2 separate regions of the Homo sapiens genome follow, and region 2 is linked to region 1. The links come from fine-mapping of genetic effects on gene expression. Tissue or cell type: tibial artery. Region 1 holds a variant in brackets; the other region holds the start of a gene. All regions are shown on one strand. Distances are between the middles of the regions.

What was found. PIP is the estimated chance that this variant, and not a neighbour inherited with it, causes the effect.
Region 2: it holds the start of TBC1D7, and the variant in region 1 is fine-mapped to the expression of TBC1D7 in tibial artery (GTEx, PIP above 0.99).

The regions. Positions count from the first base shown.
Region 1 is chr6:12,902,493-12,905,179 of GRCh38, forward strand. All of the region lies in intron 4 of PHACTR1 (phosphatase and actin regulator 1), which reads left to right. Among named protein-coding and RNA genes, the nearest start is that of PHACTR1, 190 kb to the left of the region's middle. The variant A/G (reference allele first, on the strand shown) is at 1,233.
Region 2 is chr6:13,327,145-13,329,831 of GRCh38, forward strand. It overlaps TBC1D7 (TBC1 domain family member 7), which reads right to left and starts at 1,393. Exons shown (of 8, transcript NM_016495.6): 1 at 1,152-1,393. TBC1D7-LOC100130357 (TBC1D7-LOC100130357 readthrough) reads right to left here and starts at 1,393. Exons shown (of 9, transcript NM_001318809.2): 1 at 1,312-1,393. LOC124901261 (a long non-coding RNA gene) reads left to right here and starts at 1,471. Exons shown (of 2, transcript XR_007059457.1): 1 at 1,471-1,754; 2 at 2,581-2,687. RefSeq lists a silencer at 1,209-1,598 and an enhancer at 1,232-1,738.

The DNA.
Region 1 (2,687 bases):
CGTCCATTGGATGAACTTCTAGGTTCTTCCATTGGATGAACATACAACATCTCCTCGGGTAAACATAGTGTCAGCTCCATCAACAAACAGTGTCCCAGTTCATCTCTGTGGTATCACTTTTCTCCACATCTTTCCTAGGCTGAGGGGCATAACCTGGATTTTCTTTTCCCAGCATTCATTTTCTTCCTCTTGAATGTTCGATTGCTCCATCAATCAACTGGATGATGATTGAATGAATCAATACATTCATCAATATATGAAGAACATATAACTGGCCTGGAGAATGTGCAGATTCGCTCACTACTCTCTCAAAGCAGGATGAACTATCCATATTTTGATAAAGCTGAACAAACCCACACTGTCCATCTCAACAGGCCACTTAAGACCCCAGCAACCCGGTCCCCAGAAGACACTCAGCTTACTTAGGGCAATGACACCATTTGTCGAGACCCAACCGGCCCCTTGTGACTGCCTTCCTCCATGAGTTCCAAACATCCCTGGTGGCTTTTTCAACTTACGAATTTGAGGTGAAGGAAGAAGAGAAGCAAACGTCTTCATGAGAGGTGACAAAGTGTGGTGGTGAAGAGCGAGGGTCCTGCAGCCAGACACCTGCTTTCGGCTCCCAGCTCTGCCATGCATTACCTGGGAGACTTGGCCACCTTCCTTAACCACTGTGTTCCTCAGTTTCCTTATTTATAAGGTGGGAATGCCGTCAAGGGTTCCTGAGAGGATCAAATGAATAAGGATAAGGAAAGCACTTAGAACAGTATAAGGCACAAAGCAACTGTGTGGTAAAGGGTGGATATTATTAAAGGGAGACATGTCTTCAAGTAGGAGCCAAGAAGTGAATGTTCCCATCACTAATACCAACCTAAAATAGCATTAGTCCAAATGTATCATGCACGTGGTCAGCATAGCCAAAGGTTGCCTCACTGCAAGGTTAAAGAAGAAGCTAAACAAATTTCACTTCCTTACAAGGGCAACAGGACTGGACTCCATCCTTCTTGACATGGGTTGTTTCCTCTTTCCTATTTAAGAATGAGCACATTGGGTGCAATTCTCCAAGGCTCCCCACTGGTTTATTCTGCCCTCCTGGCCTTTGCCCTTAGAAAGGTTTATAGCCTTCTCCCTAATAACTCAGTACATAATCATTAAGAAGCATGAGTAAAATGGGACTTTAATTACTTTATTAAAGGTAATAAATATGTCTATGCCCTTGAGATCATATAAAA[A/G]TAGCTTAAAATCATTGGCCATAGTTATATTTTCCACGAGCTGAGTTTTAAAATATGTATAAAGTCTGTGGTAAATTAAGAGAGATTTCAGCCTACTAACAATTCCTAAACCATTCTAAATGGGTCAGGAATTCAACTGGGATATCTATGATTTTTTTGTTTCTTCTTATTTCCTGATAATGCCATATGTTTTATAATTTAGCATCTTATTAAGGAGGTGAGAGCCTTAAAACTTTTAAAGTCAATTCCTGTTTTTAACTATTAAAAATAATTTTTAGTGGAGAGTTTGCTTATTATTATTTTGACACAATGCCTGCATTCATTTTAAGATTTAGGGGATTACTGAGCTATTCTTTTACATATCTCCAGCATATCATGCAGCATCTGGAACAGAGAAGACATTTTCATTTATGTTTATTAAATAACCAAAACATACATATGAATTAACAAATAAACTATATATAAAGGCAATAGTTAGGGCTTTCTTTTAGCATTTCCTTTTGTCTTTAAACTAGTCTCTTTTATAGAAACTACTCATTACGGCCGGGTGCAGTGGCTCATGCCTGTAACCCCAGCAATATAGGAGGCTCTGAGGTCAGGAGTTCAAGACCAGCCTGCCCAACATGGTGAAACCCCATCTCTACTAAAAATACAAAAAAAATAGCCAGGCGTGGTGGCAGGTGCCTGTAATCCCAGCTACTTGGGAGCCTGAGGCAGGAGAATTGCTTGAACCCGGGAGGCGGAGGTTGTGGTGAGCTGAGATCTTCCCACTGCACTCCAGCCTGGGCAGCAAGAGCAAAACTCCATCTCAAAAAAAAAAAAAAAAGTGAAGAAAGAACAGAAACTACTCATTACAGTAGTTTACTTGCCGTAAGAATCACATCAAACATTAAACCTTTCCACCTTCATTTTCCTAACACCTCTTTGACTTGGGGAAGGATAAATGACTCTTTACCTGCAGGGTGAACCAGCTACATACCCCGAGGCACTGACCCGGACTCAGTCTAGCACAATCAGAACCCCATCCAACCAGCCTAATATGTCATGTAAAGGGCACGGTCTGACTTCTGAGAGAGGTGGATCTCAATCTCATCGCTGCTGCTTCTTAATCCCTTTGAGCCTCAATTTCTTTTTGTATATAAAGGGAACAATAGTGATTTTGTTGAGATGAGGTATGCAAAGTCCCTGGCATGCAGTGAGCACTCAGCAATAAGTGCTATTTATTGGGCCAGGATTCCAACTAGTTTCATAAAAATAGCAGGAAAGTCCAGTGGAAAGCCCACTTGATGGTAGGGGAGGCTTCTACCCACCAACTAATTCCATGTTTCTCAACCCTGCACTGAACGTCAAAATCACCTGGGGAACTTTTGAAAAATTATGATGCCTGGTCCCAACCCCATGGAGCCTGGCTTAAATGGGGACAAGATAGCTATAGATTTTTAAAGTTTCTCCAGG
Region 2 (2,687 bases), 420 kb after region 1:
AATAGATGGCACAAGGTTTATGCACTAGGTTTCCCACTATACCTATGAGTGCCTAGCACAATAGAACATTCTGTAGCTATTATAAATGCGCAAAGAAAAAAAATAAGTGAAATGGAAGCCAGGCAAGATACGTCAAGCAAATTATACTCAAACAGTATACACTATGATTTCATTTTTTGTTTTTTACAAATTTCATGTATTTTAAAACTTAACACTCTATTCCAAAATGTTAGCAATGGTTATCTTTAGATAGTAGGATTCTAGATGATTTTAATTTCCTTTCTTTTGCTTAGCTACTTTTTTTTAAATGGGCATTTTGTAAAATGAAAAATTAAGTTATATAAAAGTAAAAAGCCACGAGTTCCTCACTTATCTTTCTTTTAAACACAATTCTATTAAGTGTAGCTATCGAAATTCAAAACCCACAACAAATAAATCGCATTAAATTATAACTAGAAGAGGGTAAAGAATGTAGCCAATTGACAGTGATCCCAAAGTCAGAGTTGAAGACGGAAAAACGATTTAAAATCTACCGCAAGAACTCAAAAAGTTCAGTGGTCTCAAGTTCCTTCACAGTAACCTTCATAATACTGGCGGTAATTCATCCAAAAAAAGACCAAGTTAGATTTGGCGTTTCAAGAACAGAAAAGATCTGATGCATTTCCCAAAAAGCACTGCACTGCCTCACCCAAATGCTTCCAGCGTCTGTGCACAAAAGAGTAAATCTTTAGGTTTAAAAACCCTGCGACGTCCCCAGTGAGCAGGGGAGGGCTTCCTTCCTTATTGAAAAGATATCCTCTGAACCGATTCAGTCACAGGAAAGATTAGGATTCGTTTAGAAAATGAAATGCTAAAGGGCTCTGAGCTTTCGGGAGCAGATGTCTTAAAAATAAAAAAGTCAGCAGCATAAAACGCGTAATGAGTGTGGGGATTTATTTTTTTAAAGCATCCAAACAGCTGCATGACGATTTGGTCGGTCCCTGTTGTCTAAGGACACCCATTCTTAGATTGCACTACAATGACAAAGGCGTCCTCTAGGAGGAAATGCTGCAAATAATATCTCCTGCCCATGCGCGTCCACCTGATGGGAAAAGTAAAAACACCCTGGTCCAAGACCCCAGGTCCCATTCTCTCTATGATGGATGCTTCACCTCTAGTAGTGCAAACACACCCGGGTTGAGACTAAGTGGTCCGGGAGAAGCAGAGGAAGCCGTGCCCTGTGCGCTGACCGACCGCCGGGCAGGCGGGCACCGTTGGGGCCCAGGGCCAGGAGGGACGAGTCCTGCGGGAAGGAGGGAGGCGGCGGGGTACCTGGGACACCCGCGCGCGCCCAGACGGCCCGGGAGACAAAACTCAGCGCCGCTGCCGCTGCCGCTGCCGCCGCCGCCGGACGTGACATCAACTCCAGGTCGCCGGGCGGGCGCCGGGCGGGCGCATGCGCAGAGGGCGCGGGCAGGAAGCTCCACCCTCACTCCAGGAAGCTCTGGCTTCGTTTGTGAAACCCGACGGGATGAAGGGCTAGGCTCGCCTCCAGAGTAGTGTAGTTTCTCCCGCCGTGGGCACCCGGCCCCTTGCTACCCCGCAAAATCTCGCGACCATTTACTCTGGCCATCCGAAGGCGCGTGCCTGGGTTGCACTCCCGTGTCCGGCCCTCGAGGTTCTTGCCTAGGGAAGACCCGAGCCCTAGGGCCGTACTTAAGCTGCCTGCGTGCAGGACCCGGGTTTTGCTTTTGCTAATTTCCTCCCCACCCCAGGTATGTGGGAATAGATGAAGACCATCCGAATGAGAAGAAAAAAGGCAGGCAGAGGAGTGCAAGTCTGATTTAGAGCAGGCAGGCTCCCTGGGTTGGTTATTGTAGGTAACTGACTGGTTTTCTGGGCAGGTTGCTGCAGGTTGTGGATTGGAGGTCTATTTTTATATTAGATTTGGCCATTGTCTTAGTATATTCAGCCTCTCAGGTAAAACACTATAACATAGGAGAAAAATGAACGTGTTTTTTTTTTAAAAAAAGATGTGCTAAATGCAAGCTCCTAATTTGTTATTAGTAGGTCTAACAGAACAGAGTTACTCTTTAAAGTAGCTACTAACACTTACAAATGCTTTCTATTTCTGTGCTTGCCTCCCTGGTCCTCGGGCTGGCTGAGCAGCAGTGCCCAAGTAGGTTTTTAAACCGCCAGGGTTTGAGAGAAATCCCCAATGATGGGTATCGTCCCTTTGAAAGTTCAAATCTCTACCAAATAAGCCACACGGATGCCAAGCTTTGAAGGAAACTTAGGACTATCAACAGTGCAGAAGTCCAGTTATAGTGCAGACAAATGTGTGTATAATGGCTAGACAGAACTTAAAAATGAAGAAACGTGTGGTGGTTGAACTCAAACACTGATGCCCCTCCCCACTCCCTTACCACCACCATCTTTAGTTCCTCAGTACTGGGGTACTAAACCTTCCTTGGGTAGTGTTCACATGAGTAAGCAGAGTTCTTCAAGTTACCTTACACAAGTTCCATTTACTTCATCTAAACCTTGGGCCGGTCACTAACTTTTATAATTGCCTTTTCTTGTCTTTAAAATCATCACCAGGGCTGGGCACTTACTGTGTGCAGGCGCTGTTCTATGGACTCAGGATACATCAGCTACCGAAGCAAAGATCCCTAACCTTGTGAAACTGACATTCTGGTGGGAGGACA